Linked DNA regions of Homo sapiens. The protein of the gene in region 1 interacts with the protein of each later gene in a pairwise test. Each region holds a gene or a part of one and is shown in the gene's direction. Other genes may lie near its edges.

Region 1 (3,652 bases):
CACCTGAGATCAGGAGTTCAAGACCAGCCTGGCCAACATGGTGAAACCTTGTCTACTAAAAATACAAAAAATTAGCCAGGCACAGTGGTGTGCACTGGTAGTCCCAGTTACTCGGGAGGCTGAGGCAGGAAAATCGCTTGAACCCAGGAGGCGGACGTTGCGGTGAGCCGAGATCGCGCCGCTGATTCCAGCCTGGGCGACAAGAGTGAGACTCCATCTCACACAAAAAAAAAATAACAAAAAAACTCAGAAATGCTAAGTGTACTTATTTGTTGAAGAAACTTGTTACATATTACTAACATCTTTTTTTTTTATGAGAAATACTTTTCCCATAACCAAAAAATTCAGTGAGCAGAATGGCCTTGCTTGAGGTTTTTGCAAATCTCTCGGGTGTCTGGCTTAGTGGGAGGCAGCTGGGCCCTCATACCTGCCTCCGCACTTCAGCTGTTTGACATAAACCCAGCTTCGTGTGAGTGAAAGGGAAGGGCCTGGGGACCCTCAGAGGTTCTCGGACCACACTTTGAGAACTCCTCGTCTGGAAGACAGGCCTGGGGATGCCATGTGGGGTGAGGGCTTACGGGCTTGGTGTCGCTTTGTGGAGAACCGCTGGTGTCTGAAGCGGGTGTCAGCCCCACTGCACCTTGGTGCTTCTGGGCTGTCCTGATGCCGAGGCCCACTTCCCAGCCATGCTGACTTTGCCTCTTTCCCCTCCCAGCAGAAAAATGGCTACAAACTTCCTAGCACATGAGAAGATCTGGTTCGACAAGTTCAAATATGACGACGCAGAAAGGAGATTCTACGAGCAGATGAACGGGCCTGTGGCAGGTGCCTCCCGCCAGGTGAGAGCTGCACGTGGGGCGGCTGGGCGGCTCTGCTGCCCGACAGGAGTGGCCGGGGCACACAAAGCGGATTCAGCCAGGCCAGGAAGGCAGAGGCACCCTGGCCCAGTGGCTCTGCTGTGGGTGCTGGGAGTGGGGTCTCGGGGCAGGCGGCCTTGGCCGGGCCCCCGGGCCGGGTCTGCTCAGGGCCCTCCTGCCGGCGCCTGTGCACTTGGTGTGGGGCCAGGCCTGGCACTCCTTCCCCCGCAGACATGGGCGCCTTTGCCTGTCGTCACAGCCTCAGGCATCTCCCGCTTTTCTGGCCCGCCAAGCTCTCGTTCTGTGCAGTACTTTCTTGCTGTCTCTATGTGAGGGTTCATGGGGTTTTTTGGTTTGTTTTTTAATTAAATTCTTTTTTAATAATAAAAAAAAGACTGGTTCTTTCTGCACTGTCTGCAGGAGAACGGCGCCAGCGTGATCCTCCGTGACATTGCGAGAGCCAGAGAGAACATCCAGAAATCCCTGGCTGGAGTGAGTACCCGCGGCCCACGGACCTGCGGGCTCCTGCTCGGCCAAGCAGCATGTCTGATTTTTCCTGATGCTGCTGGTTGTTTTGGCTTCACAGCAGAGTCAGGGCAGGGTGCACGGCGCTGTGCTCCTTGGGACGTGTGGCTCTGTGACCTCCATGCCCGGACTGCCACGGACAGTGTTCTTATTCTCGCGTCCCTTCCGTGCTTACCTCGTCTGCCGGCTGGCGGTCACACTGGCCGCTCCTGTGGGGCCGGCTGGGAGCTGAGTGGTGCCATTTGCAGGGTGTCCTGTGGGCACCTGGCATGAGAGCCTGTGCCTCCCTGCTTGCTCCCTGTGGCAGGACTGTGTGTCTGCTGGGCCTTCCCACATTCCCTCTTAGATCTTGCCTCACTGGGGAGAGAGAAGTGGTGGTTCTGCAAGGCGCAAGGAGTTCAGAGCCTAGAGTTGGCACCGTCTTGAGTTGGAGACCCAGAAGGAGCCCTGTATCCCTGCTTGGCCTCCAGGCCCCGGGCCAAGATCAGGAGTTGGAGGCAGTAGCTGTGGCCTGACAGGCTGGCTGGGGAAGGGGTGTCCTCCGGGAGGTGGCAGCCCTGGTGTTCCCGAGGAGTTGGGACTGCGTTCTCCCCGGGACGGGGTGGTGTCCTGGCCCCAAGAACGGGGTCAGTGTTTCTGTGGCTGCTGCTATGGCTTTCCACAGCCTCACGCTGGAAACAGTACATCTGTATCATGCCGGGTTTCCAGGCCAGAAATCTGAAATGTGTCTCACGAGGCTGTCCCCAGTGTCAGCAAGGTCGCCATCCTTCCAAAGGCTCAGGAGGAGTCTGTTCCTTTGCCTCTCCCAGATTCTGGTGGATGCCCACGTTGCTTGTTTCAAGGTGCTCAGCAGGCAGCCTCATCCCCGCCCCGCCTCCACTTCCATCTCGCGCCTCTCTCGAACCTCCTGCCTCGCTCTGTCACTTACGTGGTTCTTGTACTTGCTTTGGGCCCCCAGGATCCCAGGTCCAGGATGTTCCCACCTCAAAATCCTGAATTTAATCGTGTTTGCCAATTCTTCTTTTTGCCATGTAAGGTAGTGGATTTGCAGGCTCTGGGGGTTGGGACGTGGGCGCCGGAGATTCTCATTGTCTCATTTGTAAGGTGCATTGCTCCTCACCAACATCTGCAGAAGCCTGGGTCCCCCACAGTGTCCCTCCAAAGTCCAGAATCCCATCCAATCAGGCATGGGGGATTGCGTGGTCCATCCTGAGGCAAAATTCCTCTCCATCTGTGGACCAGTGAAACTGGAAAGCAAGTTATCTGCTCCCAAAATACAATTGTGGGACAGGCATTCCCTTTCAAAATGGGAAAAAGAAGAAGGAAACAGGGCGTCACTAGTCCCAGGCAGTTTCACAGTCCAGCCCGGCGGGTCACGTGAGGTTTGAAGGGAGCGCTCCTGTGTGGCCCATGGTCCCCCCCGCTGTCATTTTTTAACATCCCTATTCCTACCAACAGCATGTTCGTGGCAGTTTAGGTTGTTCTAGAAGATGACGTGTTTTCTCTGCCCTGCTCCTCACCTCCTCTGAGTCCTCACCGAGGGCCTTAGCATCTGAATTCTGCCAACAGGGTGCTCAAGACAGGCTAGGGTTTTTCTTTTGGAGGGGGTGGGTGAGTTGTGGACAGAGTCTTGCTCTGTCGCCCAGGCTGGAGTACAGTGGCATGATCCTGGCTCACTGCAACCTCAGCCTCTGGGGTTCAAGCGATTCTCCTGTGTCAGCCTCCCGAGTAGCTGAGACTGCAGGTGTCTGCCACCAAGCCCAGCTGACATTTTTTTTTCTTTTTTTTTTTTTTTTTAGTAGCGGCAGGGTTTCGCCATGTTGGCCAGGCTGGTCTTGAACTCCTGACCTTATGATCTGCCCACCTCGGCCTCTCAAAGTGCTGGGATTACAGGCGTGAGCCACTGTGCCCGGCCCAGTCTAGGGGTTTTCTGTCACGCTCCTCAAAATTCTTCCCGCCTCACCACTGCCCAACTCCAAAGCCATCTCCACATTGTTAGGCATTCCAGCAGCACCCCACTTCCTGGGCCAGGATCTGTGTTGGTTTCCACTTGATGTTGCTGTAACGTTGCCACACTTCCGTGGCTTAAAACAGCACAAGTTCCTCACCTTACAGTTCCGGGGGCCAGAAGTCTGAGATCATCTTATGGGGCAAAATCAAGGCTGTGGTCCTTCTGGTGTCTCTGCGGGGAGAATCCGCTTCCTTGTCTCTTCTGGCTGCTGGAAGCTGCTCACGGTCCTTGGCCCAAGGCTCCCAGGCAGCTGTCTTGT
Region 2 (2,889 bases), on another chromosome or scaffold:
GAGGGTGTTGGGGTCAGAGTGGGCCCAGGGTAATTTGGGAAGGCATCGCCAGAGATTCGGAGCCCCATGTGTGGGAAGGTGGGGAGGAGGGACAGGGAGATTAGAATTTCCCCCAGGCCCCTTCCCTGCTAACTGGTGAGCCCTGCCTCCCCCAGGAGCCCGCTGCGAGGCCAACACCTTCGATGGTGAGCGCTGCCTCTATGGGGCACTGAGTGACCCCATCCGCCGGGCTCTACGCGATTACAAGCAGGTCACGGCTTCCTGCAGGAGGCGGGATTACTATGACGACTTCTTGCAGCGGTGAGCCAGGGCACACGAGGGGTGCAGCATGGGGTGCGGTGGCCCTGGTGGGTGTGGCGAGTCTGCTCTGACTGTGGCCTGCACTGGGTTCTGAGTGCTCCGAGGAATGGGGTGGGGCTGTGCCAAGTATCCTCCCTCCTGGCTTGTCCCTCCCCAGGCTTCTAGAGCAGGGCATCCACAGTGACGTGGTCTTTGTAGTACACGGGAAGCCATTCCGGGTGCATCGCTGCGTCCTGGGTGCACGTAGTGCCTACTTTGCCAACATGCTGGACACCAAATGGAAGGGCAAGAGTGTCGTGGTTCTCAGGCACCCACTGGTATGTCCCTTCAGGGTGGCAGAGGGGCATGAACTGTCCAGGAACAGCAGGAGGTTGTGCTGGGTGGCTGCCTCTGACATTACTTTCTGGTTTTCTGCCCACAGATCAACCCCGTGGCCTTTGGGGCCCTGCTGCAGTACCTGTACACAGGTGACCCCCTGGGTCCAGGGTAGGAGGAGAGGGAGTGGGCCGTCCTTCTGGACAGCAGTACACCTAGGTGTGGCTGGGCTGACCTTTCACCTCTAGACACTTCATGGTCCCCCCGGGGTGGTTCCAGCTGCCTCTCGGGTTGGGTTGCAAGAGAGAGGACTAGTGTGCCTGCTCAGGAAGAGCTTGTCCCACCCACATGCTGAGGCCCTCCCATCTGTTCCCTGGGGCCTGTAGAACAGCTTTTGATGGGGAAACCATGGTGGCAAGTGGGCCCAGGAGTCCTAGTCCTGCAGCCAGGTGGCCAGGTGGGAGGGGATCACCCTTTTTCTGTGGGCCTGATGACAGCTGAGGTCCCGCAGGCCCTCATCCTCCCCACTGCCCCCAGGCCGCCTGGACATTGGCGTAGAGCATGTGAGTGACTGTGAGCGCCTGGCCAAGCAATGCCAGCTGTGGGACCTGCTCAGCGACCTGGAGGCCAAGTGCGAGAAGGTGTCTGAGTTTGGTGCGAGCAGGGTTTGGGGCCCGGGGCCATGGGTGCGGCCTGGCAGGGCTGGCCTGGCTCCCTGAAGTTGTTCTTCCCCTGTAGTGGCGTCTAAGCCAGGCACGTGTGTGAAGGTGCTGACCATCGAGCCCCCACCTGCAGACCCCCGCCTCCGGGAGGACATGGCGCTGCTGGCCGATTGTGCCCTGCCCCCCGAGCTCCGAGTAAGTGCGGGGCTGGTGGGCAGGAAGGGCGTTTTGGGATGGCAGGCCGTGACAGGCAGCCCAGATACTTGGGCTCAATTCCTTGTGTGGTCCTGGACCAGTTACTTCCCTTTTCTGAACCTAGTCGTTCACTTCTGTGAACAACTGCTCTGATGGGGTCACCTCTTCTGTACCCCAGGGTGATCTTTGGGAGCTGCCCTTCCCTTGTCCTGACGGCTTCAACAGCTGCCCTGACATCTGCTTCCGAGTGGCTGGCTGCAGCTTCCTCTGCCACAAGGTGCCTGTGCCCTCCTGTTGCCCCTGGCCCCAGCCCGTTGCCCTGAGCCCCCGTCTAGCTCCTCAGGAGACAGACCCTGGCCCTCACACTTCCTGAGCCCGGCCTCCCCCAGGCCTTTTTCTGTGGCCGCAGTGACTACTTCCGAGCCCTGCTGGATGACCACTTCCGAGAGAGCGAGGAGCCAGCGACCTCAGGGGGCCCCCCAGCCGTCACCCTGCATGGCATCTCACCCGACGTCTTCACTCACGTGCTCTACTACATGTACAGCGACCACACTGAGGTGGGGGCTCAGGCAGAGCTGGGGATGGCACACAACCTGTGCTGCCGTGGGCTGAGAGGGAGCGCCAGGGCCCTGGGGGTCTGTGGAAGGGCCCAGCTGGCCCCATGGTTGACGTTTTGAGAAGGCTGGAGGGGAAGGCTGTGGGACTTTGGATTTTTCTTTCAGGTAGAGGAAGCCTTGTTGGGCTCCAGAGAGAGGATGAGTGATGAGCCTGTGTCACAGACACTCCACACTTGTCAGCCACTTGGGATCCTCAGCTTCTCTAGCAGGAGGGTGGAGGGTGGGTGGGGACAGCCTCCTCTCTGTGGTGCTGCAGATCCCTGGGGTTCTGGGTTCCCAGTCTCCTCTTCCCTTGCTGCCTGCCTCTGTCTCCAGCTGCCCCAAGGTGTCCGTAAGCCAAGGCTGCAGGGCAGCAGCAGAGTGCTGAAGGTTTGCTCTGCCAGGGTGTGTGAGAGAGAGAGAGAGTGTGTGTGTGCGTGCGCGTGCGCGCGCACTATAAAGCAATCCCCATATCTGGTGGCTTAAAGAAGAGGGGAGTTTGTTTCTCCTTCACTTCTGACTGAGGTGGGTGCCCCAGGGCAAGTGGCTTGCGGAAGATCAGGTCATCCCTCCATCTTGCCCCTGTATGCCTAAGGGTGAAGGTCAAAAACCTTTTCTCTGAAGGTGAGTGTTTCAGGTTCTGTGGGCCATATGGCCCTGTTGTAGCTACTCAACTCTGTAGCGCAAAGGTAGCCAGAGACAGTACAGAGATGAGTGGGTGAGGCTGCATTCCAATAAAACTTTACTTGCACAAACAGGCTGGATTTGGTCCACAGGCCGTAGCTTACCCATCCTGCCTGGGGCATCGCGTTTGGCCATGG
Region 3 (3,652 bases), on another chromosome or scaffold:
TGGATTCGTTCAGTTATTTTAACCCCCTTTTTCAGTGTAGTAAAAGGAGCTAGGCTTTGAAGGGAAATAGACCTACGTTTCAGTCTTGGCTGTGTGACCTTGACCCTAAATTCCTGCCTTAGTTATCTCATCTATAAAATGGGAGTAATTGTAATCATTTCAGGATTGTTGTGAAAATCAGATGATCTAATGTCTCTAAAACATGTAGCACAGCGTTTGCACTTAGACTCTCAATAACTGTCAGTTCTAAAATTTGAGCAACATACAGAGTAAGGATATCTATTACAGCAGAATTATTTATGATCGACAAGTTGGAGGCACACCAGTGTAGAAATGGAGGAGCTTGAAAAATACGTTGACTGATGAGTATTGAATAAAATCTAAGGAAACACTGATTATTGTCTTAAGAGTTTATCCAGAGTGAATATTCAAGGATTTTGCATACTATTTTGCCTAACAGTATTTGTTATTGAATTGTCATTGAAACATTTTTCTAGATTCACCTACAAGGAGTTTATTAAATGATATGAAATGCTACAATATTAACAGTTGGAAATCATACATTGCTGATTCTAGATTTTTGAGATTTAATTTTATCACTGACACTGTATGTCTCGACAGGTAACAAGAATGTGTTTTTAGCCAGGCACGGTGGCTCACACCTGTAATCCCAGCACTTTGGGAGGCTGAGGTGGGTGGATCACCTGAGGTCAGGAGTTTGAGACCAGCCTGACCAACATGATGAAACCCTATCTCTACTAAAATACAAAAATTAGCCGGGTGTAGTGGCGGGTGCCAGTAATCTCAGCTACTTGGGAGGCTGAGGCGGGAGAATCACTTGAAACCAGGAGGTGGAGGTTGCAGTTAGCCAAGATCGTGCCATTGCACTCCAGCCTGGCAACAGAGCGAGGTTCTGTCTCAAAAAAAAAAAAAAAAACTAATGTGTTTTTATGTATAGATACATATTTTAGTTACAGTATTGCATCTCTGACCTGTGAGCCAGAATTTTGAGGCTCTCATTATCCATTTGCCTATGTGTTTTTGCTGGCATGTCATGATCTGCCACTGTAGAGAAGGAATAGAGTTCTAGCCAAATGTGTGTCCTGGTCAAGTTCCTCAACTCACAAAAAAGGATGTCAGTCCCCGCATTATCCCCCACCTGACTATAAAAATATGTGACTCCACCCTAGCCAGTTGCATAGCTGTACTCCAGTGTTTGTCAAAGAAATAATCTTGAAGTTATGTTGCCCAGTGTTATTTTTTCTTTTCTTTTCTTTTCTTTTTTTTTTTTTTTTTTTGAGACAGAGTCTTGCTCTGTTCCCTAGGTTGGAGTGCAGTGGTGTGATCTGGGCTCACTGCAACCTTGGCCTCCTGGGTTCAAGCGATTCTCCTGCCTCAGCCTCCTGAGTAGCTGGGATTACAGGCATGTGCCACCATGCTCAGCTAATTTTTGTGTTTTTAGTAGAGATGGGGTTTCCCCATGTTGGCCAGGCTGGTCTCAAACTCCTGACCTCAGGTGATCCACCTGCCTTGGCCTCCCAAAGTGCTGGGATTACAGGTGTGAGCAACCACACCCGGCCCAATGTTTTCTTAAAAGCTTAGTTAAGGAAAACAAAAAAATTATCAGTGGAGGAGTGTCATTTATTTGTATTTGTGAGTTCCAAAATGGGGTAAGTCATCCCAAGGGGTGCACACAATGAAACACTGGAATGTAGGAAGAAAATTATAGAACTTCCAGTAACGTTTACTGTTATTTCATCCACTTAAATTTTTCATTGTGTATACATTCTGTAATACAAAAATATATTATTGCAGTAATTCTATATAATTTATAAATATATAAATGATTTATAAACAGGATGTATACTCAAATTGTTTTTTACTGATAGGGCATATGTTCAAGAGGAGCTGGAAGACCACAGCTCTAAAGAGTCTAAAAACTATCCTTTGGTGAAGTTAGTCCCAAAAACAGCTATCTGAACCATATCATTTTAACGCATTATAGCTCTCCTTTTACTGAATTACATTTTGGCTTACATGGAAGAGCTTTTGAAAAAATAGTTCTGTGAAACTTGTTGCAGTGCTTAATGTGCTGGTGCTGAGAATATCATTCTTAACATTACATGGGTTCCCTCTGAAGACTCATGGGAAAAGTTACTTTAAAGTCTAAATAAGAATAATATTTGCATTTTTCCTAGATAATTAGCTTGTTTAATTTTAAAGACCTAGAGGATATTTCTTTTTAAATAAAAATAAACTAAATGAACCAATGTTATCAGTGTTTATAAGGAAATATCTGTATCATAAAAATTTTATATTCAATGCTAAGAGAATTGATGTTACAATAGATGGTTAAATACAACTTAGTGCAAATATATATTGTTCTATTATATGTAAATAAAATCTAATATGGATCAAATAATGAGTGTACGTACCTACATAGTTTGAATTACACAGTTCTTTAGCATCTCTGTTAGAACTTATTTTGTTGCCACAGATTGTCAGTGAAGAATCTTAATGCCAGTCTAAGATATTAATATATGTCCATATATATTCTTAAGTGTATATTTAATATATTAAGTTTAAATACACTAAATATACATATATTATTTTTTAAAGTAATAACTTATTTAAAGTTAAGAGATAACTAAAATAGATGTAAGATTAGAATTTCAAATACAATTGTAAAATATTGGTGAAAAATAGAATATCTTCAAACAATCAGCTACCAAGAAGGTTGAATTATTCAATATTTATTGAGGGCCTATTGTATATTAGACACTGTTCTGGCACTCAGGATAAAGCAGTGGATAAAATAACGAAACCCACCCACACAGAGTTTGTATTCTCAGAAGAATTCATAAAAAGGAATATCAGCTGGGCGCGGTAGCTCACACCTGTAATCCCAGCACTTTGGGAGGCCGAGGCGTGTGGATCACCTGAAATCAGGAGTTCGAGACCAGCCTGGCCAACATGGTGATACCCTGTCTCTACTAAAAATACGAAATTTAGCTGGGCATGGTGGTGCACACCTGTAATCCCAGCTACTCTGGAGGGTGAGGCAGGAGAATTGCTTGAACCCAGAAGATGGAGGTTGCAGTGAGCCAAGATCGTGCCACTGCACTCAATCCAGCCTGGGCAACAGAGCAGATTATCATCCTTGATGCAGTTGTTCAACACTTAACATATTTTTTGTGTGCTATCCTGCTTTTAAACTAACTTTAAGAAATTAGAACTGTTTATGCAGATGTGCTAAAGGAGAAGAAAGCCCTAAGCTATAAATAGTTTATCATTTCCAGGTCATGTAAAAATATTAATTTTGCTTATAACAGAGAATGAAATATGTTTAAAGTGCTGTATGGTACAGTAGAAAGAGGACTAGGATCAAAGAAACTGTGTTCTAGTCGTTGCTCTATCCAGAACTCTCCTGAGTGTAAGACAAATTACTTAACTTGTAAGTGCCTCATCTTTTTCATTTATAAAAATGAGGGAGCTTGGACTTTCCTTAAAGTCTTTTCCAGCTAATAATCTATAATTTGGTATTCTCTTAGGACTTTTCTTACATTCAGAACCTTCAGGAAACTCAGATTTCATTGGGGAAAGTCATATAATTATTGTTAGATTAGGATTTAGGGATCTAGTTTTTTATCCT

Evidence for each region.
Region 2: the proteins of EEF1D (region 1) and ABTB1 interact in binary tests that used the Homo sapiens proteins (3 or more experiments, as listed by UniProt).
Region 3: the proteins of EEF1D (region 1) and MPC2 interact in binary tests that used the Homo sapiens proteins (3 or more experiments, as listed by UniProt).

Annotation. Positions count from the first base shown.
Region 1 is NC_000008.11:143,583,916-143,587,567, reverse strand, and holds part of EEF1D (elongation factor 1-delta), read left to right. Parts: intron 1-715; coding exon 716-839; intron 840-1,277; coding exon 1,278-1,349; intron 1,350-3,652.
Region 2 is NC_000003.12:127,675,815-127,678,703, forward strand, and holds part of ABTB1 (ankyrin repeat and BTB/POZ domain-containing protein 1), read left to right. Parts: intron 1-155; coding exon 156-300; intron 301-457; coding exon 458-617; intron 618-721; coding exon 722-767; intron 768-1,152; coding exon 1,153-1,269; intron 1,270-1,353; coding exon 1,354-1,472; intron 1,473-1,650; coding exon 1,651-1,749; intron 1,750-1,861; coding exon 1,862-2,029; intron 2,030-2,889. UniProt on the Homo sapiens protein: May act as a mediator of the PTEN growth-suppressive signaling pathway. May play a role in developmental processes.
Region 3 is NC_000001.11:167,930,455-167,934,106, reverse strand, and holds part of MPC2 (mitochondrial pyruvate carrier 2), read left to right. Parts: intron 1-3,652. UniProt on the Homo sapiens protein: Mediates the uptake of pyruvate into mitochondria.